3 separate regions of the Homo sapiens genome follow, and all the other regions are linked to region 3. The links come from fine-mapping of genetic effects on gene expression. A gene starts in region 3. Each other region holds a variant in brackets. All regions are shown on one strand. Distances are from middle to middle.

Region 1 (10,567 bases), 58 kb after region 3:
CCTGTTTTTTGACCTTGGTGATGGAATGGGGGTGAATTGTGTTCACATTTCCCTAGAGCACCTAGGAGCTCTGGATGCTCATGCTAGGGGTTTGCTGTGGAGTACCCAGAGGCTTCTCAGATCCACACCTCTGGAGCGGGGCTAGTGAGGTATGACTGGCCAGTGGAGTGATAGGCCTGCATTACTGAGGGATGGGGGTTTCAGGGAAGGAACTGCACAAGATCTCTCATTTAATGCTTACAACGACTCTATGAGATAAATAGCTGTATCTATCTATTCCTTATTTACTTATTATGAAACTAAGTCTTAGAGGAGTTAAGTAACTTGTTCAAGGTCACACAGTTAGTAAGTATGTGTGTGTGTGGTCTCTTAAATAAAGACCCATGTTTGTCTCCAGAGCCTGTGTTCTTAACCAAGATAGTTTAGGCTAATTTGATGGCAAATCATTAAACTATTTGAATGCTGGTAGTAGCAAACAGGACTTTTCTTGCTGCCAACCATGGGTGTAAGAAGGTTTTTGAGAGATGAATATTTTAGAGATATTATTTTCCCCTCTGACTTGTGTGCCTTTGTGGACAGGGACTGGACCACCTACTGTTCAGATGTTGTAGCAGATATAACTAGGACCCCTGAAGGGAATGGAACAGTTGCCAATTGGATGACAAATTCAAGTCACTGTGTTCTGGCTAACAGAGTCACAGGAAATGCTGAAGGAAACATAACTAGTAGTAGCCAAAGAAGGAGAAACACATTTTGGAGCAGAATTCCTCTCGTTTGCCAATCTTTTTACAAAAGATTTTCCTGATGAAACTCGTCTGGACTTTGTTTCTTGAAAGAGTCAGGAGTGTAGAATGTGGGCATCTGGCTGCCAGCGGGGTCCTGTATCCCACTATTGGAAGGTGCCAGCCAGAGTTCTCCTCTGAATGTAATAATTACCAAGCCATTATTGAAATGGTCTTTAGAAGAAAACTTGTTTAAAGGGTTACATCCTGGGAATTTTTGCTCTTCCAATGTTATTAAAACCTAGTTGCTGTTTTCTCAGTTAGGCAAATGTTAGAGGAAATGAAATATAAACAGAGATTAATTTCTTCTCTCTGACATTTGATTTTCATTAGTTCCAAGTTATACTGTTCCTTTTATACTGTGTTCTTTTTATACTGTGTTCCTTTTAATTATCTGTTCCACAAGTTAACGTACATATTTTTTTCTTTTGAGATTCATAATGAACTTTAAAATGATGTTTTAAGGACAGAGCTCTGATGAGACCTGACTTTTTTGTTTGTTTGTTTTTATTTACCAAATGATGTATTCTTGAATAAACCTTTTTGGGTGGAAAACAGCCACCAAGTTGATTCCTCCATGCAGGGATAGACATAGTTGTGAAGGAGGCTGCAAAGCTGCCATTGGTAGTTCCCCATGTCTTCAGCCATTTTCTCCAATCCCCCATTCTTGCTTCCAGCCAGCTTGTTACCTTATAATATGTGCCCCATTGTTATGTGCCCCACCTTCTTTCGCTTTCTTTCAAGAACTTCACCCTTATCAAAATGTCCTCCTTCAGAGTCTTCTACTTTGCCTCCTGGTTTCCTCCTACCATTCTCTTACTTTCATTCTGAACTGGAACTGATTCCTCCTTAATGTTTCTCCTGGTCTGACACCTACATGACTCTTGTTTCAGTCTTCCTATAACCTACATTGTGCCAGAGGCAACAATAAATATTGAATAAATGAATAGATAGGTGAGTGAATGAATTAATTAATTTGAGGAATTCTGATGATCAAACAGGATGTCAGGTCCTCATTTTTATTTTTATCTTTATTTGTTTTTTGAGATGGAGTCTTGCTCTGTCTCCTGGGCTGGAGCGCAGTGGCACGATCTCAGCTCACTGTAACCTCTGCCTCCCAGGTTCAAGTGATTCTCATGCCTCAGCCTCCTGAGTAGCTGGGACTACAGGTGCATGCCACCACATCCACCTAATTTTTTTATTTTTTAGTAGAGACAGGGTTTCGCCATGTTGACCAGGCTGGTCTTGAACTCCCGACCTCAAGATATCCTCCTGCCTTGGTCTCCCAAGGTGCTGGGATTACAGGCACGAGCCACTGCACCTGACATGTCAGGTCCTTTATTTAATTTACTTAGATTAATTTATTATTTTTTTTAGAGACAATGTCTTGCTCTGTCACCCAGGCTGGAGTGCAGTGGCATAATCATAGCTCACCTCAACCTTGAACTCCTAGGCTCAAGTGATCCTCTCTCCTAAGCCTCCTAAGTAGTTGGGACAACAGGCGAGAGGCACTGCATCTAGCCCCTTTATTGTGTTTATTACTTCTAAATCATTTTAGTATGAAAAATTTCAAATATACAGATGAGTAGAGGGAGTGGTACAAACAGTCCCTGTGTATGTATCACACAGCTTCAATAGCTACCAACATGGAGCCACTCTTCTTTTATTTATAACCTGTCTGCTTTTTGTCTGGTCCTTTAGCTGAATTCAGTTCAGTCAAGCAAGTGCATTATGGGTGCTATGATCTGAATATTTGCGTCCCCGAAACTCATGCGCTGAAACCTAGTTATCAGTGTGATGGTATTAGGAGGTGAGGCTTTTGGGAAGTGATTATGTCACAAGTGGGACTAGTGCACTTATAAAAGAGGCCACAGAGAGTTAGCTTGCTCCTTGCACCTTGTGAAGACACAGTGGGAGTGTGCCATCTGAGAACCAGAAAGTGAGCCCTCACCAGACACCAAATCTTCCAGTGCCTTGATCTTGGACTTCCTTTTTTCTTTTCTTTTCCTTTCCTTTTCTTTTTCTTTTCTTTCTTTCTTTCTTTCTCTTTCTTTCTTTTTCTTTCTTTCTTTCTTTTTTTTTTTTGGAGTCTTGCTCTGTCACCCAGGCTGGAGTGCAGTGTCACGATCTCACAATCTTGGCTCACTGCCACCTCTGCCTCCTGGGTTCAAGTGATTCTCCTGCCTCAGCCTTCCGAGTAGCTGGGATTACAGGTGTGCACCACCATGCCCAACTAATTTTTGTATTTTTAGTAGAGACAGGGTATTGGCATGTTGGCCAGGCTGGTCTCAAACTCCTGACCTCAGGTCATCCACCCATCTCGGCCTCCTAAAGTGCTGGGATTATAGGCGTGAGCCACCGTGGCCGACCGATCTTGGACTTTCTAGCCCTCAGAACTGTGAGAAATTAATTTCTGTTGTGTATAAGCCACCCACTTTACAGTATTTGGTTATAGCAGCCCAAATGGACTAAGACAATGGGAACATTTTAAAAACCGCTACAGGTATCTGCACTTAATTTAGACCTCCTGCTTGCCCTCTCTATTATAAAAGAGGCAGATTTGTTTGTAACTTTTCCTGCTTCCTTGTTTGGCTCTTGTTTTTTACTTCTACCAGGGGTTCTTAATCTGGATGCACAAATCCCCAAGGAGTCAATGGGTAAAAATCAAGGGGTCTATAAACTTGTATAAAAAAAATACAGTTTCATTTTCACTAACGTCCAACTAAAATTATATTATGAACATAAGCAGCGAACCACAGTAGTACGTGTAGTACATGCAACTTTGAAAGGAGTAGAAATCTTTTAATATAAAATTTCAGAAGTTGTAGAGGCTTCAAAGTACCTTTTATGCTAATCACTACTTTGGAATCATAATAGTTACTAGACCTGCCACCAGATCTTGTTATTGGATGTGTGAATAAGGAAACACATACATTACTGTATCACTTATTAATATTTTTATGATTGTACAGAGATATATTTGGTTTCATTTGTAGCTCATTATGTTTTATTTTATATACTTAAATATTATTCTTTTAAAAGAAATTTATAGTTTTTCCTAAACTGTCAAAGGGTCCTATGGCTCAAAAAATATCTAGACACTTTAGTTGATAACACATTTGTATTCCTTATTCTAATTTTGACTTGATGTCTCCCTATCACCCACAACCAGTATAATTTATTACTTGTCTTCTGTGTAATACACAGGAAAGAAGTACCTCTCTTCCAAGTCCTGTATGCAGGGCTAGCTCCCCAGGACCTGCTCCTTTTACTCCCTGCCAGAGCAGGAGCCAGAGCAACCTTTGCTAGCAACCCCAGAAAATAGATTTAGCCAATTATCATTTACTAGCAACAGGAGGGCCTGATGGATGACTTTAATATATTTTAGTTTTCTACTGCTCAAGTAATTCTCATAATTCAGTTGGTTTTATATTATAATCTATTTTAGCCACCGACTGTTGGGTAAATATTGAATCCCTGACTCCTGTGCGATTTTGGCAAGCCTAGCCTTGCCCTTGGCATTATGAAAGAAGCAGATTGAATTATGTTCCCCTTCACATTTTCTTTTATCAATCTCCCTCTCTCCTCCTCTTTTTTGTTAATACTTTCTCCCCTTTCTTACTCAGAGACTGTTTCATTCTTTCCAGGCCCAGATCTGTGCTATGCAGCAAGAGATAAATCTACTTGGTCTCACAACCTGATGGCCTCTGCACTGAATTTACAAGCATGAGGTATAGAAACATCGCACAGATTGTAAGGGGTGGCCATCCCAGTTGTGTGATAAGTCTCTTGTGCCACAGGTTTTTCTTTCTGACTCTTTGCCTCAACTTCACTCAGCTGTCCCCATGTTATCTACCTGCTATCACTCTTAGCCTTAGGACATAGACCTGACCTGGACAAATAGCACCTGGGTTTGGTTGCTCCATAGATGGGGCTTCCATAGCAGGTACCAACACTCCAGGAGCCTCTCTGTTTCATATGGTATCCAATTTCCAATATCCAGTGGTCATGTAACAGACAATTGCTGTGTCTTCCATTTCTAAAGTCTCTGTGCCTATAATAAAGTGTCATCTAAGTTCTTTTATTATGTCTGAGGAATGCTGTTATTTCTATTGATTATTTGTGGAGGAGGAAAGATTGACATGCCCCGATTCTTCCTTTCTCAGGCTAACAGCTCTTGTCAGTTTCCCAGGTTACTTCTCTCCTTAAAAGGGAGTGTTCTTAAAAGAGTCTAATAATGATGGTTTATAATGCCAAAAATACCTTAAACGTTCCATTCTTTTCAGGCCCTTAAATGTAATGTCAGTCATGAGAATCCTATAAAAATCTGAGGCAGATAGCTCAGAAACAATTCAAGCCCACCCTAACCCACTTCATGTGTTAGCTTCCCTGTCTCCTTAATTTTTGCTTTCATATCTTGGTTCTATATTTCTGGTAATCCTTCAGCCTTGGTGATTTATGTTTTGTGCTCTGTATCAGCTAACATCTTGGCATCCTCAGGACTCCACATTTGGAATCTGCTCCTTGGCTCCATGTATTATAACCCTGGGCAACAAACACGTTGCCTTCACCCACAGTCCTTGGAACATCCTCTTCCCTCCCCTAACAAGAATGCTGAGCTCATTCACTTTCCAGAGCCTCAAGAGGTCTCCTGCGTAGAGTCATGGATCATGCATCTCATCCTAAAGCTCAACTAAGCAGCATCTGATGAGAATGTGACGAAGGCTGAACCAGCACACTGAACCACCATCATCCTTGTGCAAAAGCAAAACTGGAGTTGCTGGCACTGTTCTTTCAGGTCCCCTATCAAAATGCCCTTGAGCTGCGTCTGGTTCTGTTATGGCTTCTCACTTCAAATAGAACCATTAACACAGACACAGCAACTGCTTTTTTTTTTTTTACTGTGGTAAAATACGTATGAAATAGACTGCTATTTTAACCTTTTAAAGTGTAAAACTCAATGGCATTAATTACATTCAAAATGTTGTACAACCATTGCCACTATTTCTAAATTTTTTCACCCCCGCAAACGGAAACTATGAATCCAGTAAGCAATAACTCCTCATTCTTCCCTCCCTCCTACTCTCAGTTTCTGATAACCTTTAATCTAATTTCTGTCTCTATGAATTTACCTATTTAAAATCTTTCATGTAAGTGGAGTGACATAGTATTTGTTCTTTTGTGCCTGGCATATTTGACTCAGAATGTTGTAGTATGTGTTGGAGCCTTACTCCTTTTTATGGCCGAATGATATTTCACTGTATGGATATACCAAATTTTGTTTATTCATTCGTCTATTGATGGACACTTGGGTTGTTTCCACCTTTTGGCTGTTGTGAATAATGTTGCTTATGAACATGAATGTACAAGTATCTGTTTGAGTCTCTGCTTTCAATTCATTTGGGTGTATACTCCAAAGTGGAATTGCTGGATCATATAATAATTCTACATTTAAATTT[T/C]TGAGTAAGTGCCAAGCTGTTTTCCACAGTGGCCGCACCATTTTATATTCCCAACAGCAATGCACGAGTGTTCCAATTTCTCCAAATCTTCAGCAATGCTTGTTACTGTCTGATTTTTTTTTACTATAGTCATCCTAGTAGGATAGAAGTGATATCTCATTTTGTGTGTGTGTATGTGTGTGTGAGTGTGTGTGTTTGAGACCAGGTCTCACTCTGTCACCCAGGCTAGAGTGCAGTGGCACAATCTCGGCTCACTTCAACCTCTGCCTCCTGGGTTCAAGTGATCCTCCCACCTCAACCTCTCGAGTAGCTGGAATTACAGGCACGTGCCACCACACATCTGGCTAATTTTTCTATTTTTAGTAGAGATGGGGTTTCGCCATGTTGGCCAGGCTGATCTTGAACTCCTGACCTCAAGTGATCCACCTGCCTTGGCCTCTCAAAGTGCTAGGATTACAGGTGTGAGCCACCACACCTGGACCTCATTGTGGTTTCGATTTGCATTTTCTTAATGACTAATGATGTTGAGCATCTTTTCATGTGATTTTTGCCATTTGCATATCTTATTCGGTAAAATGTTTATTCAAGTCCTTTGCCCATTTTAAAATTGGGTTGTCTTTTTGTTGTTGAGTTGTAAAAGTTCTTTATATATTTTGGATATTAAGCCTTTGTCAGATTTGTGATTTGCATGTATTTTCTCCCATACTTTGGGTTTTCTTTTCACTCTATTGATAATGTCCTTTGATACACAAAAGTTTATAATTTTAATGAAGTGCAATTACTATATTTTTTCTTTTGTTGCCTGTGCTTTTGGTGTCAGATTTAAGAAACTATGCCCAAATTCAAAGTTGTCAAGATTTGCTCCTCTGTTTCTTCTACAAGTTTTATAGTTTTAACTCTTAAATTTAGATATTTGATCCACTTTGAGTTAATTTTTGTATATAGGGTAAATTAAAGTCTACTGCTTTTGACATTCTCCATTCATAAGTTTTCTTGGCTCTTTCTTCAAATTTGGCTTTATAAAATTCCTATCAATTTTTAAAAATTTACACTCTTGGATTTCCTATGCAGCTAGGACCTTGGACCCATCATGTCTCTGAAACCATGGGTAAAGGTCACTTAACTTACGTGCTCTCTGCTGGTGTGTCAGAGGAAGATATCAGACATAAACATAGAGTACGAGATGACTGACCACCAACTCTAGGAGGATGTTTTCTTACATTATTATGCAGGAGAACCATGTGCTTAGCACATACCTAACTGAATCCAACATAGCAGGCTATTGTAATACAGAATTCAAGAGGCTTGAAGAATCATAGGTTGCTTACAAAAGAGCTATAAGAGCTGAGATCGGGCTGTCTCCACTTAGTCAGATGATCCTAGCTCTGCTACATGTTCACCCTTGATAGAAAAAAAAAACACACAGAACAACAACAACAACAACAACAACAAAAACCCAAAAAAACCTAACCCTTTAAAGAGTGAAGACTATACTAAGAAGATAAGGCAGCATGACAGGCAACTGTGGGGGGCCACTTGGGACAGGAAGCTCTTTTGGTGCTGCTAGGTGTCCACCACACCATGCCGCTGGTGGTTGATTATAGAATGTTGAAACTGTCTAGAAGGAGTAATGACTTTGCATCTAATGTGAGAGAAAATTACTTGAATGAAAGCCTTGCCATATTCCCATTCATGCTGTAGATGACAGCCTCTCTCAGTTCCTTTACTGGCTGATGCTTTGGCATGTGCTAAGGAAGGTTGAGAATTGCTTCTTCCTTCTTGTGTTGTATAATACAATGAAATTTCACTGAGCATCATCTATTTCAGGCCAGGCCCTGTGCTAGACACTGGGGAATGAAACGTGAAAAAGACTTGGTTCTGGCTGGGAGTGGTGGTTCATGCCTGTAATCCCAGAACTTTGGGAGGCCGAGGCAGGCAGATATCTTGAGGCCAGGAGCTTGAGACCAGCCTGGCCAACATGGTGAAACCTTGTCTCTACTAAAAATACAAAAATTAGCCGGGCGTGGTGGTGCACACCTGTAATCCCAGTTACTCAAGAGGCTGCTCCATGAGAATCGCTTGAACCCAGGAGGTGGAAGTTGCAGTGAACTGAGATTGTGCCATTGCAATCCAGCCTGGGGGACAGAGCAGGACTCCATCTCCGAAAAAAAAAAAAAAAAGACTTGGATTCTCATCATAGTCTTGTTTTGTTGCTGTCTTTATGGAAAGTTGAGTGTTTCAGTTTCAGTTGGTACTAGCTTATGGGGACATTTGAAGGAACTTACATGGTAAATAAACTCAGGATTATATACCCAGGTTTCCATAGTGGAAATGGGCTTTAAGGATGCATGTGAGAAAGACTTAGATATTTTTTACAAGTCTCAATCAATTTATTTTTTATTTATTTTATTATAAATTGACAATTTATACCTGTATATGTTTATGAGGTACAAAGTGATATTATGATTTATGAATACCATGTGTAATAATTAATTCAAAGTAATTAACATATCCATCACCTCAAATACTTATCATTTTTTGTGGTGAGAACATTTGTAATTTACTGTCTTAGCAATTTTGAAATGTACAATACACTATTATTAAATATATTTACCATGCTGTGCAGTAGATGTAAAAAAAAAAACCCCTTATCTCTCCTAAGGAATGAGTTGGTGCTTATGTGTGTGTGAGTGTGTGTCTTTTTAAGACAAGGTCTAGCTCTGTTGCCCAGGCTGGAGTGCAGTGATGTGATCATGGTTCATTGTATCCTTGACCTCCTGGGCTTAAGTGATCCTCCTGCCTCAGCCTCCTGAGTAGCTGGGACCACAAGTGCATGCCACTACACCAAGCTAATTTTTTCATTTTTAGTAGAGATGGGGTTTTGCTATGTTACTCAGGCTGGTCTCTAACACCTGGCCTCAAGCGATCCTCCCACTTTGGCCTCCCAAAGTGCTGGGGTTATAGGCATGAGCCACCACACCTGGCCTATTTATATTTTTTAACCATCATCTCCCCATGCACCCCACCCCCAGCCTCTGGTAACTACCATTCTATTCTCTGCTTCTATGAGTTCAAGTTTTTTAGATCCCACATATAATTGAGAACATGTAGTATTTGCTTTTCTATTCTGGCTTATATTACTCAGCATAATGCTCTCTAATTCCATCCATGTTGTTGCTGCAAGTGACAAAATTTTCTTCCTTTTTTAAGGAATGGGGTCTTGCTATGTTGCCCAGGCTGGACTTGAACTCCTGGGCTCAAGCAATCCTCTCATCTTAGCCTCCCATGTAGTTAGGACTACAGATGCATACCAACATGCCTAGCTAGAATTTCCTTTCTTTCTTTCTTTCCTTCTTTCTTTCCTTTCCTTTCTTTTCTTTCTTTCTTTCTTTCTTTCTTTCTTTCTTTCTTTCTTTTTCTCTCTCTTTCTTTCTCTTTCTCTTTCTTTCTTTCTTTCTTTCTTTCTTTCTTTCTTTCTTTCTTTCTTTCTTTCTTTCTTTCTTTCCTTCTTTCTTTCTTTCTCTCTTTCTTTCTTTTAGATGGAGTTTCACTCTTGTTGCCCAGGCTGGAGTGCAATGGCGTGATCTCCTCTCACTGCAACCTCCACCTCCTGGGTTCAAGCAATTCTCCTGCCTCAGCCTCCACAGTAACTGGGATTACAGGTGCCCGCCACCATGCCAGGCTAATTTTTGTATTTTTAGTAGAGATGGAGTTCCACCATGTTGGCCAGGCTGATCTCGAACTCCTGACCTTAGGTGATCCACCCGCCTCGGCCTCCCAAAGTGCTGAGATTTCCGGTGTGAGCCACCATGCCCAGCCAAATTTCCTTCTTTTGAAAGGCTGAATGGCAGAGTGGGGGGCGGAGGGGAGTGTCCAAGATAGCCAACTAGAAGCAGCTAGTGTGCATGGCTGTCAGGTAGAGGAAAAGAAGGGGCAAATAAATACAACACCTTCAACTGAAACATCCAGGCATTCACACTGGGATTAATCAAGGAAACAACCTGACCCACAGAGAACGAATAAAAGCAAGACAACAGCCTACCTAGGAACAACATGGAGCCAGGGGATCCCCCCGCCACACAGGGAAGCGGTGACTGAATGAGTGACCCGGGGAAACCAGGCTTCTCCCAGGGGGCTGAGCCGCAACAGCCCACACACCCCACTTCCATGGCACCTCACAAGATAAGACCCACTGGCTTGGAATTCCAGCCAACTACCAGTAGCTGCATCGCACCTCCTTAAGAAGGAGTTCCCAGGGGAAGGGGTGGGCCACCATCTTTGCTGTATGGGTGTCTTGGCCATTCCAGCCTTCAGACTTTGGAGTCT
Region 2 (9,096 bases), 65 kb before region 3:
CAAAAGCATTCAGTTAGCATGTATGGTAAGACTATGCAAGGTCTCTGCCCTTGAGAAGCCAGTAGGGGAAGATAGTTTCAAAACTAATTTCCATAACAATAATATGACATATATACAAAGTGCTGTCAGAAGAGGCAAAACAAGAAATTTGGGAGAAATCTGGAATAGGAAGAGTTCTACAGAGATTATGTTTATGCTGTGTCTCAAAGTGGGAGTTGCCAAAAAGAGAAGAGGGAACAGGATGAAAGGCATTCTGGGGAACGGAAACAAGGGCAAAGCAAGGAGTGAAAGGGCCAGGCCTGTTTATGGAAACATGGAAAGTGCAGTGAGGCTGGGAAGTAGGATGTCTGGCTGGGAGTAAGGAAGATGAGGCTCAAAAGTGCCTGGCACACCAAGCCAAGAATTTGGAGTCTACTCTGTAGGCGATCATAGATAGCAGGGAGACAATCCAGCAAGCAGAGCTTTTACAAACCAGGGGTGACAGGATTGTGAGTGGAGTAAAAGCAGCTTGTATGGTATACCTTGTGATAGGTGAATCAGAACCCTGCAAATAAATCAACTTTCTAACTTTGTTTAAACAGGCCCACTTGTTTTTGTGTCTTGAAAAGTCCCTGATTAAAATGCAAATCAACCTTTGGCATTATTAGACAATATCATTGCTATTTGATGACAGCCTGCTGAAAGCAAGGCTCTAATGGAACTTAGAACCGCTGAGAAGGGAGATGGGGGCCTGAAAGGAGACAGATGGAAGCACTCCTATCTGTTTTGAATATACCACATAGTTTTTTTCATTTTGTTTTGTTTTGAAGACAGAATCTTGCTGTGTCGCCCAGGCTGGACTGCAGTGGTGTAATCTTGGCTCACTGCAACCTCTGCCTCCCGGGTTCAAGCGATTCTTGTGCGTCAGCCTTCTTGAGTACCTGGGACTACAGGCATGTATCACTACGCCTGCTAATTTTTTTTGTATTTTTAGTAGAGTCAGGGTTTTGCTATGTTGGCCAGGCTGGTCTCGAACTCCTGGCCTCAAGTGATCCGCCTGCCTCAGCCTCCCAAAGTGCTGGGCCTACCATATAGTTCTTGCTGCCCAAATAGAAACAGTAAACTCTTAAGGCCAGGAAAGACACCTTAATACATTGAACTTTCCTTTATCGTGTCTCACAGTTCACAAAATGCTGAACCACTGTAAATGCAGGGTAAATGCTTATTGAATTGAGTATTTCATTGCATGTGAATAAAATAATGCTGTGTCTTTATAAGGGAGGATTAACTGACTCATTTTCAGGATTTAATGAACAAGGTTGTTCTAATTCATGTAGTTAAAATCTTTAGGAGGGTATATGAAGTGCTAGCCATTTTAAAAAATTACAAATATTAGTGCAACTGAAAGGGAATGGACATAAAGATAAGAGAAAGCTGCTTTTGCCATACAAAGATAAACTTTTCTACTAACCTAAATGATAGCTGAGTCCTGTTAATATTTAACTACATTCTAGTAATAATAGTTCCCTATCTCACATGGTTATCTAAGCCCTTCAGTCTTCTGAGTTACATGTTGGTTTTAAAAAGCACAGATCTGGCCACGCGTGGTGGCTCATGCCTGTAATCCCAGCACTTTGGGAGGCCAACATGGGTGGATCACATGAGACCAGGAGTTCCAGACCAGCCTGGCCAATATAGTGAAACCCCGTTTCCACTAAAAATACAAAAATGAGCCGGACATGGTGGTGTTCACCTGTAATCCCAGCTACTCAAATGGCTGAGGCAAAAGAATCCCTTGAACCTGAGGCAGAGGTTGCAGTGAGCCAAGCTCACACTGCTGCACTCCAGCCTGGGTGACAGAGTGAGACCTTGTTACAAAAAACAAACAAACAAACAAAAAACAAGGCTAGGTGGCTCAGGCTTGTAATCCCAAAACTTTGGGAGGCTGAGGCGGGCCGATCACCTGAGGTCAGGGGTTCAAGACCAGCCTGGCCAACATGGTGAAACCCTATCTCTACTAAAAACACAAAAATTATCTGGGCACGTTGGCAGGTGCCTGTAATCCCAACTACTCGGGAGGATAAGGCAGAAGAATCGCTTGAACTCAGGAGGTGGAGGTTGCAGTGAGCCGAGATTGTGCCACTACACTCCTGCCTGGGCAACAGAGAAAGAGTCTGTCTCAAAAAAAAACAAAAACCTTCCAAGTTGGTTTGTAAAATATCTTTTACATCAAGAACCAACTAATTGAGGCTAGTTGAAGAACATAAGCGTATATTCTGTACACCCAAATGTTTGCCAATCAACGTTAAACACATTCTCAACATTAAAATACATTTTCAAGGTTGAACTCACGGGAGCCACACTAATCAAGATGTGTAATGTAGGACACCATACAATTATAGCCATTATCAGACTAAACCAGACTGGGCACTTAACACATATTCCATATTTAGGATCTTTCATCTTGTGAGTTCAACTCATACCTTAGAAACATTAATTAAACTTTACAATGTTGCCACATGAAGTGTAGTTATTATTGGCCACCTTTAACCAAGCTGTTTATAAAGGTAAGTATATGTGTAAAGGAAGAAATACAAACAAAGACAGGGAGCTAGCTTTTACAATGTCAATTCCTTTATTTCTGTGGACATCTCCCTAAAAAGGCAGAGTGTAACCCATTTCCCCTTTTTGATCACAGGGATTCCCCAGGGTGCTTGGGGAATCAAGATGTGTAATGTAGGACGCCATACAGTTATAGCCATCTGGGGTGCTTTAGGTCCTCTCCAGATATCTCATACCAGTGGCTTGCCACTAGACAGACACTCCTGGAAGCCTTCCTATCCAATGGGTGGGATTTTCCTTAGGAATGGGAGAGACTGCTTGCCCAGGAGAATCTGAAGATGTTTCTGAGAATGCATTAAAAAAACACAAACAACAACAAAAAGCAAAAACCAAAACAAAACAAAACAGAAAAAACGGCTGGGCACAGTGGTTCACACCTGTAATCCCAGCACTTTGGGAGGCCAGAGTGGGTGGATCACTTGGCCAGGAGTTTGAGACCAGCCTGGGCAACATGGCGATACCCTGTCTCTACTAAAAATACAAAAATTAGCCAGGCCTGGTGGTGCACATCTGTGGTCCCAGCTACTTGGGAGGCTGAAGTAGGAGAATTGTTTGAACCCGGGAGGCAGAGGTTGCAGTGAGCCGAGATTGCACCACTGCACTCCAGCCTAGGTGACAGAGTGCAAAAAAAAAAAAAAAAAAAAAAAAACTGCTAGGTAAAGGGCAGTCCATTTACTTTTTTTTTTTTTTTTTGTCTGAGACAGTGTCTCGCTCTGTCACCCAGGCTGGAGTGCAGCGGCGCCATCTCAGCTCACTGCAAGCTCCGCCTCCCGGGTTCATGCCATTCTCCTGCCTCAGCCTCCCAAGTAGCTGGGACTACAGGCGCCTACCACCACGCCCAGCTAATTTTTTTTTGTATTTTTAGTAGAGATGAGGTTTCACTATGTTAGCCAGGATGGTCTTGATCTCCTGACCTCATGATCCGCCCGCCTCGGCCTCCCAAAGTGCTGGAATTATAGGCGTGAGCCACCGCGCCCGGCCCAGGCAGTCCATTTTCTTCATCCACTTTTCTGAAGGATCATCTTTGAAGCAGGAAAGTACAGAGAAGGCAAACTAAGCAATGCTGAGATAGTAAAGATTGTATCATAATAAGGGCTTTGTTATGCTATCAACACCAATGGGCTGCTGAGGAGGCCAAAGCTCAAGCAAAAATAATCCAACTACACAATGTGAATTCATCAGTTTCCCATCCTGAGATTGCTATATAAAAGCAAGGAAAGTAATAACATGTGCTGAACCTATGTGCTAAGTAAAATGTAAATAGATAACAGATTTCATATGTATGTGTGTGTGTATAGGTATATATATATATATATATATATATATATATATATATATATATATGTATATATATTTGGGTTTTTTTTTGAGATGGAGTTTCGCTCTTGTTGCCCAGGCTAGAGTGCAATGGCACTACCTTGGCTCACCACAACGTCCACCTCCCGGGTTCAAGCGATTCTCCTGCCTCAGCCTCCCAAGTAGCTGGGATTACAGGCATGCAGCACCACGCCTGGCTAATTTTGTGTTTTTAGTAGAGACGGGGTTTCTCCATGTTGGCCAGGCTGGTCTCGAACTCCCAACCTCAGGTGATCTGCCTGCCTCAGCTTCCCAAAGTGCTGGGATTACAGGTGTGAGCCACCGCACCCAGCCAAATTTCATATTTTTAGCAAAATTGTTTATCTTACATCGCCTGAAGTTACTGACTTGGTACATCAACCATTCAAGCACTTCGTTCCTTAGCTCAGAGATTTTATCTGTCATACCTGTGAACCATCTGGAAAGCAGATTTAAGGACTAAAAGTTAGAGATAGGCTGTTTTCCCTGAGGGTTTGGGAGTGGGGAGCCAGAGCAGCCACAGATGACTTCTCCCTTGGGTGCTGCCAAGGACTTGCTTATGGAGTTGCTGGGCCTATATATATATTTGGCGAGCTGATGTGCCATGGCATGGGCCTATTTTTAACATTCTGTTTACTTTATCGATGTCTCTCAAAGTCCCTCCAACCCCACCCTGCTCAATGTTTGATCTAATGGCATTCAGCTTTTCTTTTTCTCACAGACAAGGCCAATTTAG[ATT/A]TTTTTTTTTTTTTTTTTTTTTGAGACAGAGTTTGGCTCTGTCGCCCAGGCTGGAGTGCAGTGGTGCAATGTTGGCTCACTGCAATCTCCATCTCCCAGGTTCAAGTGATTCTCCTGCCTTGGCCTCCCAAGTAGCTGGGATTACAGGTGTGCACCACCATGCCCAGCTAAATTTTTTGGTATTTTTAGTAGAAATGGGGTTTTGCCATGTTGGCCAGGCTGGTCTTGAACTCCTGACCTCAGGTGATCCGCCCACCTCGGCCTCCCAAAGTGGTAGGATTACAGGCATGAGCCACTGCACCCAGTGCCAATTTAGATTTAAATCCAGGGTTCCCAACTCACTGTACAATAGAATGACCTAGGAGTTTTTTTTGTTTTTTAATCTTTACCCAGGTCCAAACCTAGTCAGTCCAATTCAATCAGAATCTCTGTGAGGAGGACCTCAATTATCAGTATTTTTAAGAAGCTCTTGGCCAGGTGCGGTGGCTCATGCCTGTGCCTGTAATCCCAGCACTTTGGGAGGCCGAGGCAGGAGTATTGCTTGAAGCCAGGAGTTCAAGACCAGCCTGGTCAACAAAGCGAGACCCTGTCTCTATCGAAAAAAAAAAAAAAAAATTAGCTGTATGTGCTGGCATATCCCAGCACTTTGGGATGCTGAGGTGGGAGGATTGCTTGAGCCCAGGAGTTCCAGCTGCAGTGAGCTATGATGGTGCCAATGCACTCCAGCCTGGGTGACAAAGTAAGACTCTGAAGAAAAAAAAAAAAAACAGCTCTCCAGGAAATTCTACATACCTCCAAGTTTGAGAAACCATAGTTGTAGATGAAGTAAGTATGTCTTGTGATTTGAATGGGGCTGATAAGCACTTGTATTCCGTTTAATGCCTGAAATTTCATGATTATTTATTCACTCATTTGGATAACACATTGCCTCCTTCTCTAGGAATCCTTTTTTAAAGTGCAAATTAGCCAAGGAGTCTTAGTTCCTAACCCTTTAAGGTGAATGCCTCTTGGAGGAAAAAAGCTAATAGGAAAGTCCTAGGAGACTGGAGGTAAACAGAACTAGAAGAAGCCACTGCAATAGGGAGTGGTGAGAGGTGAGGTTACCAACCAGGAAGGAAAGATTTCTGAGAGTACATTTTGCTGACCTCACAGTATTGCCTAGGGCCAATCCTGCTTTTTGATGACTGCATATTTAAAACCTAATCAAGTTTGACAGCTTATCTAAGCTGCCAAAATCATACTAAAAGAAAATTTAAATATTTTTTATAAGCAAAGCAGAGAGCAGACATTGGGTATGTAGGTTTAGAGCTATCCCTAAATGCCCAACTTTTAAATTATCACTCACCTCAGGGAAGTTTCTATTACCAAGTCATGTATTTTTCCTGCTTCTATTACTAAATGTCCTTTATTCCCACCAACAGCATTATTTCTCTCTCCAATTCCTTTGGTCATTCAACAAAAATATATTGAGCAAATACTCTCAGCAACGCATGGTGCTAGATGCCGTGAGGGAATACAGAATAACACAAAATTCAATTTGTAGTTGATTTCACAGTTTTTCAAAGCACTTTCACATACAATCTTATTTTATCCTGATAAACACACTGTGAGATAGATCAAGTACCATCCCCACTGTACAGATAAGAAGTAGGCTCAGCAAAGGAAGTTAAAATTATTTGCTAAAGTCACAAAGCACACAGACCTAAGTCCAGTTCTTCACAGACTCCAAATACAGCACTTCCCATAGTTTACAATTTCGTAAGGAGACTTGCCATAAAATAGTCTCAAGTAGTAGACATGTTAGAAAAAGACGTTCAGAGCCCCACTCACCAAGAGAAAAAAATGAAGAATAAGAAAATAACTCTTTTATTGAGATAAGCTAAATCAAAATGCCCAAAAGGAGACCAAGCTTGCATGCAGTTCAGGCCACCATCAAGCAGGTAGGACAAAACAGCCGGCAATGCACATTTAAGGATATGGTGGCAATCTTGTTCTAGAGAATCAGTCTATTCTCTGGCTGGACCCTCAGCCAGTGGCTGATCTTCACAAGAGGTAGAAACTGGCTGCTTCTCCTGGCCAAATCCAGGAAAACAGTGAAGGAACCCTGCCGGCAGACCCATCATGTTCTACTCCCTTAGTATACAAAGACAACCCTTGCCCTCCATTCTCAATTGGCAATGTAGGTTTAGAGCTATCCCTAAATGCCCAACTTTTAAATTATCACTCACCTTAGGGAAGTTTCTTTTTTTTTTTTTTTTTGAGACGGAGTCTCGCTCTGTCTTCCAGGGTGGAGTGCAGTGGTGCCATCTTGGCTCACTGCAAGCTCCGACTCCCTGGTTCACGCCATTCTCCTGCCTCAGCCTCCGGAGTAGCTGGGACTACAGGCGCCCGCCACCACGCCCGGCTAACTTTTTATATTTTTAGTAGAGACGGGGTTTCACCGTGTTAGCCAGGATGGTCTCGATCTCCTGACCTTGTGATCCAACCGCCTCGGCCTCCCAAAGTGCTGGGATTACAGGCGTGAGCCACCGCGCCCGGCTGGGAAGTTTCTATTACCAAGTAATATATTTGGTGGGTAAGGCAGACAATTACAAGACAGAGTGACAAAGGCCACTATGAGAACGCAGAGGTGGGACACCTGGCCCAGCCTAGGAGGGTGAGGTGGGGTGCAGTGGAGGAAGGGAATTAAGAATAGCTTCCAGAGAAAGAAATCCAATTTAAATCCCCGAGAGTGAGTGGGAATTAGCCAGGCAAAGGGAGTGAAAGGGAGCAGGGGGCATAAAGAAGGAAGATAGGAAGCACATTTAAATCCTAAAGGAAGAGAGAGTAAGGCACATTCAGGACATTGCAAGGAGACTAGTTATTAGAGTGTAACTTCAGTCCTAACCAGAAACTCTGAAGAGCTAATGAAGGAAATGAAGGCAGCATCCCAATCTCAAGTCTGGTACAGCAATCTTAGGCCTCTTAGCACCAAATCTTACTCAAATACCCTACTTGCTGTTGGAGCTGTGGCTACAGATAACACTTCTTGCCTTGAGCCACACTGGTTCAGGAATTGGATTTACAAGTCAGGCTCACTCTTAGATATAGGAGGTGAGAATCACAAAGCGGGAGAATAGGGTTTGACACGTGCAAAGTAAGACAAGGGCAGACTTGATAATAAGAACCACAATACTGGGCAACACTACAAAAATTCAGATAAACTACAGCAGGGTTTGGAAACCACAGCCCATGGACCAAACCCTGTCCTTTACCTGTTTTTGTAAATAAAGTTTTATTGGAACATTGCAATATTTATTTGCCTATGTATTTTCTGTGGCTGCTTTTATGCTAAAACAGCAGAGTTTAGAGTTTTGACAGAGACCGTATGGCCCACAGAGTCTAAAATAGTTCCTACTAGTTCCTTAACAGAAAAAAAAATTGCCAGTCCTTGCATTTGAATATACTAATTGTTAAAAACAGAGACATGGCACAAAGGAGAAAGTGATTTAGAACATGCTAAGGATTTTCTATTCCTATTCTGCATGCAGACTTCAAAGGATGGCAAGAGAATATTCTTTGATAAGAAAATGGCTAAATAAATTGTGGTATAGTCACATAATGAAATACTATACAGCATTGAACAATGAATAAATTACAGCCATGTGCATAAGTCTCAAACAATGTTATGTGAAAAACACAAATCACCAAATAATACCTACAATTTGATAACTTTTTAAATAAAGCTCAAAAATAAGAAAAACTTGCAGATATATAATATGATAAAAGTATTAAAGTATAGAAGGAAAATAGCTGGGTGATATGGTATGCACCTGTAGTCCCAGCTACTTGGGAGGCTGAGGCAGGAGGATCGCTTGAGCCCAGGAGTTCGAGACTAGCCTGAGCAACACAGGGAGATAACAAAAAAAAGGGGGTGGGGTGGGGTGGGGGGAATAATTAATGTAAGATCTGGGATAGGAGATTGCTCTAGGGGAAGTATGGGAGGAAAATTTAGGGAAGGGGAATTTAGGTAAATTCAAAAGCATCAGTAATGTTCTAGTTCTTACACACAGATGATAGATTCCTGGATGTTTATTTAATAATTATGCTCCATAAATTACACATCATACATCTTTTGTATGTATTAAAATTACACAAGTCGCCATAGTGTTTGCAGAAATTTTTAAAATTAAAAAAACTAAAAGGTTTTTTTAAAAAAAGTTTCAAGACAGGAAGTGGTGACTTATTGAAGGCAGACCATGACAGTATGCAGAAAGAATAGCTGGCAGAGATAACAAATGACAACTAGGATTGATTTTTGTAACATTTAAGCATACCTTGTGGATTTCTGGAAATTACTCAAGGGCGGGGGATGCACCCTCCAACCTGGTGGAAGAATGGACTCTCTATGGTCCACAATATGGGGGCTTAACGTTGTAACCT
Region 3 (10,334 bases):
GCATAGTGATCAAAGCACAGAAAATGCTTCCAAGCATCACACCCTTCAAAAAGGAGCTGCTTTCAGAAAGCATTTTTCCTATAAAGAAGAAAAAGACTCTTAAAATACTTAATAGAAAAAGATTAGTCTATAAATTTGATTTGGTATTCCTTATATACTTACATTTTGCTTTTAATGTTTTTTTTAAAAGGTTCCCAAGCTTGAAATCAAGTTAGTTGCATATAGTACAAAAGGCTCTCAAAATCTTTAGCTTCCAATGGAATCTGATTACTGTTTGGTATAAACTGGAACTTTGCAACAACTCCTCTATGGAGAAGTTTGTTTTGCACTTCATCTATGGGGATTTAATAAACCCTTGAAACCAGTGTTACAGAGGTTATCCATCCACCATTCTCTTTAAAGAATTTCACATCACAAGCTTGCATTATTTAAATACCTCTAAAAATATAGTGAACTTTTACACCAAAACCTTGGGTTGAACAGATAAAACCACCTATAAATGGCAAATCACCAATGGTATTGTGCTGACATTTCTGTTCTCAACATAGTGCTTTCTTTAACTGATGGCTGCTGTCCTTAAGTGTTTTGAGTAAATCTAAACCAAGTTTCTTGAGAATAACACCATATAGGTTAATATTTACCCTTTTGTTCCTAAAACTAAATGGTTTCCAATACAGTATCCCAACTATTGATGTAATAGAAGCCCATAATAAAAAGTTACATCTTTTGGATCAAAAAGGAATATTGATAGATATATCTGGGGCCCATTAATAAACATTTTCATTTCCTCAAAAGGAATTTTCTTCTTCTTTGGGGAAGTAAAAATGGAAAAATTTACACTTTTATTTCAATTAGAAATTAAGAGGCAGGTGCAGTGGCTCATGGCTGTTATCTCAGCACTTTGGGAGGCTGAGGTGGGTGGATCCCTTGAGTTCAGGAGTTCGAGACCAGCCTGGGCAACATGGTGAAACCTTGTCTCTACCCAAAATCCAAAAAATTAGCCAGACGTGGTGGTGGGTGCCTGTAATCCCAGCTACTCGGGAGGCTGAGGCACAAGAGTCTCTTGAACTTGGGAAGCGGAGGCTGTAGTGAGCTGTGATCTCACCACGGCACTCCAGCCAGGGCATCAGAGTGAGACTCTGTCTCAGAAAAAATAAATAAATAAAAGAAATTAAAAGCTGACATTAAATAAACTTGTTGAAAAAAATTGTATGTTAACCATTTATTCTAGTAAAGGCTGAATTTTCCAATCTTCCCTCCATCTTCAGAAAAAAGCAATCTATTGAGCTACTTAGACTTCCCAGTTTTCTCTTATGGTTGAAAGGAGCCTTAGAAAACTACCCAATGTCAGTCACTTCTCTCATTTTACAGAGAGGAAATGGAAGTCCACAGAGGTTAAATAACTGACTCAGTCACACAGTTAGACAGTGGTATAAGTGGACTAGAAACCACATTTCTCAATATCAGTTTAATGGTTTTTTTCCATTACAGAAGAATAATTGCCATAGTGCTTCTACCACATTAGAGTTTAATAAATGGGTTACTGAATATCCTTGTTTTCATACAAATGGGAAAAAAGTGGGATCTGTTGACCATAACTGATATTTTGCACCCAACAGCACCATATTGCTACAAGGAAACCACTCCTGTGGTTTTCTGCTAGAGGAAATGGAATTTTGACTTCTACCAGAAAGACAAGGTGTGGAATAGCTTGGCAGATGTAATTTCTGAGCGGTGGGTGGGGCAAGAGGCAGGAAGACTTTCCTGTGTCACTCACAGAACTTGGTCAATAAACACAGTTCCAAGAAGAGAAGTGACAGAAAACAAGCTCGGCATAATATTAGAATTGTCGGCTGTGTGCGGTGGCTCACGCCTGTAATCCCAGCACTTTGGGAGGCCGAGGCAGGTGGATCACCTGAGGTAGGGAGTTCAAGACCAGCCTGGCCAACATGGTGAGACCCTGTCTCGACTAAAAATACAAAAATTAGCCGGGCATGGTGGCATATGACTGTAATCCCAGCTACTCAGGAGGCTGAGGCAGGAGAATTGCTTGAACCCGGGAGGCGGAGGTTGCAGGCAGTGAGCCAAGATCGCACCACAGCACTCCGGCCTGGGCAACAAGAGCGAGACTCTGTTTCAAAAAAAAAAAAGAAAGAAAGAAAGAAAAAAGAAAAAGAATTGTCAGGTGCACTCTAAGATTAATTTATATAGGATTTTTGTATTTCATGTCACGCAGTTTTCATTATTTCTGGCCAATACATAATTCACATGTTTCTTTGCTCAATTATGGCATATGTGTCAGAATTCTTCCTGATGGTGATCCTACTCCTGGCTGCAAAAATAGTGATCAAAACTCAGTAAGTCTACACATTTTAAATAAAATAATTTGCAAAAATTATTCTAAGGAGATTTTTTCCCCATCACAGAGGCAAAAAATATAACACTAGGGATGCATATGATAGGATACTTTGTGCAGAAGGAAACAAAACTGCACACGAGCACAAATGAAACAGAAACTACCCCAATGGTTTTTAGATGAACCTTTTTGGGTGAAGGTAGTTGGGGTGAAGTACGGAAAACGAAGACGAAATAGGGAAGAGAAGTGAGAGGGAGGACATGGTAACCTCGATATCCCTCTGAGGGACCAAGAGAGCGCCCCCAGGAAGAAGACTCTCGGTCTCCTGTGCTGACAATCCTCCCGCTGCACCTGCCCAAGCATCCCGCGTGGAGCATGCTGGGAGAGGGCTGGGGCCCAGGCCTCCCCCAAGAGAGGGAGGGGAGTCAGGGTGCGCTTGGGGTGGGGGTCGAGGCCCCGCCACTCACCCGCGTCTAGAACGGCTTGGGGACAGGAAAGCGCAGCCGCGCACGGGTTTCCTCTCACGTTGGCGCACCACTCCGTTACGCTCCTGACCAGGCTGTTCTAGCTGCAGGCGGTGTTCTCTCGTTGGTCTCGCTAAAGGTGGGGAGCGCCAGGAAACGAGCGCCGCGAAGGCGGGGGTAGTGGGGCGGGGTAAAGGAGCCGGCGGCTGGGCGGAGCCGTCCGTTTGCCCGCCCGCGCAGGCGTCGGAAGGGCCGGCGCGCCCGCTGCGCGCACACTGCGTGCCCTTTCTCCCCGCCCCCTGCCGAGTTCAGAGACTTGCTATAGGCCTGCGTGACCCGGACGCTCTCCTTTACCCAACGGGCGTCCAGAGAAGAGGCCGTGCGTACGACTCGCTGACACCTCCCATTTCACCTTCCTGGCATGGAAATTGCGAGAGCGAGAGATTCTTGCTCCCGGTGTCGCTTTTTATCAGACCTCTTGATGGTTTCTCTGATGTACCCCTGCGTCCTTGAACCCTCATATTGCCCACCCCCCCAGTACTCCTGGGCTGAGACCAAAACGCAAGCCACTGAAATAGTCACGTAATTATGACACCAACGGTTTCCTATTATTACTGGAATGAGATCTGAAGCCCCACTGCCTGGAATCCAATCCTGTCTTCACCACACCTTTTGATATCCCAGGAAAGTTATTTCACCTCGCTGTGCCTCAGTTCCCTCATTTGTAAAGTACAGAAAATGTCACAGTAGTGCCTATTTCATAGAAAATTAGATGAGATAGTGCATATGACTCCCTTAGCAAAATTTCAAGCCTAGAGTAAGCATTTACTAAAAAGTACTGGCTGTTATTATTCACCCCAGTATTTCTAGTACTTAACCACAGTGCCAGCACGCAGTGGACAGTAAATATTAGTGGAATTAATGAATATTAGAACTACAGCTGAGGAACCAGGCCTAAAAAGGATAAGGAAATTTCAAAAGTCCACACAGCAAGTTAATGGCAGAGGTGGGACTGGAATCCAGGTCTCTTTTTTTTTTTTTTTTGAGACGGAGTTTCACTCTTGTTGCCCAGGCTGGAGTGCAATGGCACGATCTCGGCTCACTGCAACCTCTGCCTCCCGGGTTCAAGCGATTCTTCTACCTCAGCCTCCCTAGCAGCTGGGATTACAGACGCCCGCCACCACGCCCGGCTAATTTTTGTATTATTAGTAGAGACGGGGTTGGCCAGGCTGGTCTTGAATTCCTGACCTCAGGTGATCCACCCGCCTCGGCCTCCCAAAGTGCTGGGATTACAGGCTTGAGCCACTGCGCACGGCCCCCAGGTCTTCTAATTAAGAGTGCAGAGCTCTCTTTCCACGAAATATTTGATGTGTCTCTTTTTTTTTTTTTTTTTTTTGAGACCGAGTTTCGTTCTTTTTGCCCAGGCTGGAGTGCAATGGCGGGATCTCGGTTCACTGCAGCCTCTGCCTCCCGGGTTCAAGTGATTCTCCTGCCTCAGCCTCCCTAGTGGCTAGGATTACAGGTGTGCGCCACCACGTCTGGTTATTATTATTTTTTTTTTTAGTAGAGACGGGGTTTCGCCGTGTTGGCCAGGCTGGTCTCGAACTCCTGACCTCAGGTGTTCCACCCGCCTCGGCCTTCCACAGTGCTGGGATTACAGGTGTGAGCCACCGATCTGTCTTTTAAAATTCATTTTTGGCCAGGCGCAGTGGCTCACGCCTGTAATCCCAAAACTGTGGGAGGCCGAGGCAGGTGGATCACCTGAGGTCAGGAGATCAAGACCATCCTGGCTAACACGGTGAAACCCTGTCTCTACTAAAAATACAAAAAATTAGCCGGGCGCGGTGGCATGCGCCTGTAGTCCCAGCTACTCGGGAGGCTGAGGCAGGAGAATGCCGTGAACCCGGGAGGCGGAGCTTGCAGTGAGCCGAGATAGCGCCACTGCAGTCTGGCCTGGGCGAAAGAGCGAGACTCCGAGGCGGGCGGATCACGAGGTCAGGAGATCGAGACCATCCTGGCTAACACAGTGAAACCCCGTCTCTACTAAAAATACAAAAAATTAGCCGGGCGAGGTGGCGGGCGCCTGTAGTCCCAGCTACTCGGGAGGCTGAGGCAGGAGAATGGCGTGAACCCCGGGGCAGAGCCTGCAGTGAGCCCAGATAGCGCCACTGCACTCCAGCCTGGGCGACAGAACGAGACTCCATCTCAAAAAAAAAAAATAAAATAAAATAAAATAAAATAAAATAAAATAAAATAAAAATTAGTCGGGCGTGGTGGCTCATGCTTGTAATCCCAGCTACTCGGGAGGCTGAGGCAGAAGAATTGCTTGAACCTGGGAGGTGGAGGTTGCAGTGAGCCGAGATCGTGCCACTGCACTCCAGCCTGGGAGAGTGAGCAAGACTCCATCTCAAAAAAAAAAAAAAAATTCATTTTTGTGGCAGAAGGCTTTTTGCTAAAAAGCCCAAATTTTTACAATTATTTAAAGTGTATTGTTACTAGGTTCCATTAAGATAAAATTGAGTGGTGACTTACTCGGGCCTGAGTTCCTAAAGACACACATGTATTTGAGTGTTGTCAGTGACCTAGTTTAAGTAGACTGAAGGTTTCAGGGAACTCTGAAACAATGAACAAATATATTGTAGGTAGTTACTATCCTGGCAACACTATCTTAAAATCTGGAGATACAGTGGTGAGCAAAATAAGTACCCTGACTTCATGGAGCTGTCAGTCAAGTGGGGAAGAAAGACATTAAACAATTTATTACAAATAATTATAATGGTGGTATGTTTTCTAAAGGAATACCAAAATGAATTTTATTTCTGACAGTGGGCCCGCTGGAAAAGAAAAAATGAATTTTAGAACTGGAAAAGAATTTAAGACCGTGGAATATTTTCATTATATTTTGTTAAGTAATATAGTCTATTTCACATATTATATAAAATATATATGTATGTATGTATATATACCTATATAGTTAAGTGAAACAAATTGCAGAATACTGCATATTATATGATTATGTTTTGGTGGAAACAAACGTGCACATAGGTTTGATCTGTTCGTATGAACAAAGAGAGTTATGGAAGAATACTCAGCAAGCTCTTAATATTGATTACATCAGGAGGTTGAGGTGGGGATGATTAGCTTTGTCTTTATACATCCTTGTATTGCATTGTTTCACTGGTTATAAACAAGCACCTATTTTGAATTTGAAGACCAGCAAATAAAAGGACCTTAAAATTACAGGGACAAAAAGAAAAAAAAGAAAAGATACCAATAAAAATATCTTTTAAAGAATGCAGAGAACCACTCTGTCCTCGCAAAAAGGGACCAGGAAGGACAGAAATGACACTCAGAATTCAGACTGTGATGAAGAGGCAATATAAAATGTTTCTCCTAGAAAATAAGGGCACCTATTTGAGATGATGAATATGTTCATTAGCTTGATTGTGGTAATCATTTCACAGTGTATACATATAGCAAATCATCACATTGTGCACTTTAATTGTATACATTTATTTGTCAAACATACCTCAATAAAGCTGGAAAAAAATAAAATGATTCTTCTTTTAGTATAGAAAAGTACTGTATACCAAACTGGAAGTATTAATAATATAAGAGCAGCGCTTCTTATAGTGGTTGGTAATTTTAAAAAATATTATTTAAAAAATGACACAAGAGACCAGGCATGGTGGCTCACACCTGTAATCCCAGCACTTTGGGAGGCCGAGGCAGGCGGATCACCTGAGGTCAGGAGATCGAGACCATCCTGGCTAACACGGTGAAACCCCGTCTCTACTAAAAATACAAAAAATTAGCCAGGCGTGGTGGCGCACGCCTGTAATCCCAGCTACTTGGAAGGCTGAGGCAGGAGAATCGCTTGAAACTGGGAAGCGGAGATTGTAGTGAGCCGAGATCATGCCATTGCACTGCAGCTTGGGTGACAGAGCGAGACTCCGTCTCACACACACACACACAAAATTGACATAAGATGCTCTGAGACAGAATAAACCATGGGATTTTCAACACCAAAAGCTCTGTTAATAAGAAATTGTCTAAGAACCCAGTTCTTTACTTGACAAATAACTTACATATACTTAGCATTTTAAATAAAGTTAGTGAGATGATTGACTTATGGCTTTTTTTTTTTTTTGAGACAGAGTCTCACTCTGTCACTCAGGCTGGAGTGCAGTGATGTGATCTTGGCTCACTGTAACCTCCATCTCCCAGGTTCAAGTAATTCTCCTGTCTCAGCCTCTCGAGCAGCTGGGACTACAGGCGCATGCCACCACGCCTGGCTAATTTTTGTATTTTTAGTAGAAACAGGGTTTCACTACATTGGTCAGGCTGGTCTCCAACTCTCAACCTCAGGTGATCCACCTGCCTTGGCCTCCCAAAGTGCTGAGATTACAGGCGTGAACCACCACGCCCAGCCAGTAATGGCGTTTTTTTTAAAACAACATTCCATATCTCAGCCTTAATTTAAAAAACATGTGCAATTAGTATCTATTAAAATTAAGATGTTCATACTTTTTGGCCCAGCAAACCCATTCTAGTGATCTCTCCCACAGAAATAGGGGCAAATGCATTATTGTTTTTCTGTTTTTGTTTTTGTTTTTGTTTTTTGTTTTTGTTTAGAGACAGGGTCTCACTCTGACACCCAGGCTGGAGTGTAGTGGTGCAATCATGGCTCACTACAGCCTCCAACTCCTAGGCTCAAGCAATCCTCCTGCCTCAGCCTTCCAAATATGGGGTCTACAGGCAGGCACCACCACCCTGGATAATGTTTTGTAGAGACAGGGGCTTGCTGTGTTGCCCAGGCTGGTCTTGAGCTCTGGCCTCAAGTAATTCTCCAGCCTCGGACTCACAAAGTGCTGAGATTACAGGCGTATGCCACTGTGTCAAGCCAGCAGTTTTTTTTTTTTTTTTAACTTTCATTTTAGGTTAAGGGGTAATGTGCAGGTTTGTTATATAGGTAAACTGCATGTCTTGGGGGTTTGGCATACAAATTATTTTGTCACCCAGGTAATAAGCATAGTTCCCAATAGTTAGTTTTTTAATCTTCTCCTTCTCCCACCCTCCACGCTCAAGTAATCTCTGGTGTCTGTTGTTCCCCTCTTTGTGTCATGTGTTCTCATTGTTTAACTCTCACTTATAAATGAGAGTGCGGGTGTGGTGGCTCACGCCTGTAATCCCAGCACTTTGGGAGGCCAAAGCGGGCAGATCACCTGAGGTCAAGAGTTCGAAACCAGCCTGACCAACATGGTGAAACCCCGTCTCTACTAAAAATACAAAATTAGCTGGGTGTGGTGGCACACACCTGTAATCACAGCTACCCGGGAGGCTGAAGCAGGAGAATTGCTTGAACCTGGGAGGCAGAGGTTGCAGTGAGCCAAGATCACACCATTGCATTCCAGCCTGGGCGACAAGAGCAAAACTCTGTCTCAAAAAAAGAAAAAAAAAAGGCATGGCGCAGTGGCTCACGCCTGTAATCCCAGCACTTTGGGAGGCCAAGGCAGGCAGATTGCCTGAGGTCAGGAGTTTGAGACCAACCTGGCCAACATGGTGAAACCCCATCTCTACTAAAAATAAAAAAAATTAGCCAGGCATGGTGGCACACAACTGTAGTCCCAGCTACTCGGGAGGCTGAGGCAAGAGAATCACTTGAGCCTGGGAGGCAGAGGTTGCAGTGAGCCGAGATCGCACCACTGCACTCCAGCCTGGGTGACAGAGCGAGACTCTGTCTCAAAAAATAAAAAACAGAACATGTGGTATTTTTTTCTTTGTTCCTATGTTAGTTTGCTTATGAGAATGACTTCAGCTCCATCCATGTTGCTGCAAAGGACATGGTCTCATTCTTTTTTATGGCTGCATAGTATTCCATGGTACATACATGCCACATTTTCTTTAGCCAGTCTACCATTGATGGGCATTTAGGTTGATACTATGTTTTTGGTATTGTGAACAGTGCTGCAATAAACATATGCATGCATATGTCTTTATGGTAGAATGACTTATATTCCTTTGGGTATATTCTCAATAATGGGATGGCTATGTCAAATGATAATTCTGTTTTAAGCCCTTTGTGGAATCACCACACTGCTTTCCACAATTGCTGAACTAATTACATTTTCACCAGAAGTGTATAAACATTACCTTTTCTCCACAACCTTACCAGCATCTGCTATTTTTGACTTTTTAATAATAGCCATTCTGACTGGCACAAGATGGTATCCCACTGTGGTTGCGATCTACATTTCTCTAAAGATTAGTGATGATGAGCATTTTTTCATATATTTGTTGGCCACATGTATGTCTTCTTTTGAGAAGTGCCTGTTCATGTCTGTATTAGTCTGTTTTCACACTGCTATAAAGATACTACCTGAGACTGGATAATTTATAAAGGAAAGAGGTTTAATTGACTCACACTTATTCTTTTCCTTCTTCTTTTTTTTTTTTTTTGAGACAGTCTCACTCTTTTGCCCAGGCTGCAGTGCAGTGGCACAATCTCGGCTCACTGCAACATCTGCCTGCCAGGTTCAAGCAATTCTCCCACCTCAGCCTCCCGAGTAGCTTGGACTACAGCCGCATGCAACCACACCCAGCTAATTTTTGTATTTTTAGTAGAGACAGGGTTTCACCATGTTGGCCCAGATGGTCTTGAACCCCTGACGTCAGGTGATCCACCCACCTCGGCCTCCCAAAGTGCTGGGGTTACAGGCTTGAGCCACTGTGCCGGAACTGACTCACAGTTCTGCATGGCTAGAGAAGCCTCAGGAAACGTACAATCATAGTGGAAGGTGAAGGGGAAGCAAGGCATGTCTCCTCATGGTGGCAGGAGAGAGAGAGAGGAAGAGTGAGGAAGTGCTACACTTAAAACAATCAGCTCTAGTGAGAAGTCCCTCACTATCATGAGAGCAGCTTGGGAGAAACCGTCCTCATGATCCATTCACCTTTCACTGGGTCTCTCCCTGGACACGTGGGGATTACAATTCGAGATGAGATTTGGGTGGAGACACAAAGCCAAACAATATCATTGTCCTTTGCCCACTTTTTAATGGTGCTGTTTTTTGCTTGTACATTCATTTAAGTTCCTTATAGATTCTGGATATTAGACCTTTGTTGGATACATAGTTTGCAAATATTTTCTCCCATTTTGTAGGTTGTCTGTTTACTCTGTTGAGAGTTTCTTTTGCTGTGCAGAAGCTCTTTGGATAATTAGGTCCCATTTGTCAATTTTTGTTTTTGTTGCAATTGCTTTTGGCATCTTTGTCATGAAATCTTTGCCAGGGCCTATGCCATTTAGTATTTTCTAGGTTATCTTTCAGGGTTTTTATAGTTTTAGGTTTTACATTTAAGTCTTTAATTTATCTGGAGTTTATTTTTTTATTTTTTATTTTTATTTTTTTGAGACGGAGTCTCGCTCCGTCGCCCAGGCTGGAGTGCAGTGGTGCAATCTTGGCTCACTGCAACCTCCGCCTCCCGGGTTCAAGCGATTCTCCTGCCTCAGCCTCCTG

Which allele goes with the higher level. Alleles are on the strand shown, and positions count from the first base shown. SD is a standard deviation of normalised expression in the study named.
With allele C in place of T in region 1, the expression in anterior cingulate cortex of the gene that starts at base 2,961 in region 3 is lower (moderate effect, 0.54 SD a copy in GTEx).
As copies of ATT replace A in region 2, the expression in NK cells of the gene that starts at base 2,961 in region 3 goes up (moderate effect, 0.69 SD a copy in Gilchrist 2021).

What was found. PIP is the estimated chance that this variant, and not a neighbour inherited with it, causes the effect.
Region 1: its variant is the best candidate, but not a certain one, in a credible set for the expression of C1GALT1C1 in anterior cingulate cortex (GTEx, PIP 0.56).
Region 2: its variant is the best candidate, but not a certain one, in a credible set for the expression of C1GALT1C1 in NK cells (Gilchrist 2021, PIP 0.82).

Annotation. Positions count from the first base shown.
Region 1 is chrX:120,685,160-120,695,726 of GRCh38, forward strand. No RefSeq gene overlaps it. Among named protein-coding and RNA genes, the nearest start is that of C1GALT1C1, 60 kb to the left of the region's middle. The variant T/C (reference allele first, on the strand shown) is at 6,242.
Region 2 is chrX:120,562,446-120,571,541 of GRCh38, forward strand. It overlaps a transcript of CUL4B not described here. Among named protein-coding and RNA genes, the nearest start is that of CUL4B, 6.0 kb to the left of the region's middle. The variant ATT/A (reference allele first, on the strand shown) is at 4,673.
Region 3 is chrX:120,627,094-120,637,427 of GRCh38, forward strand. It overlaps C1GALT1C1 (C1GALT1 specific chaperone 1), which reads right to left and starts at 2,961. Exons shown (of 2, transcript NM_001011551.3): 1 at 2,824-2,961; 2 at 1-78. The coding sequence starts at 73. RefSeq lists an enhancer at 2,342-3,269 and a silencer at 2,929-3,198.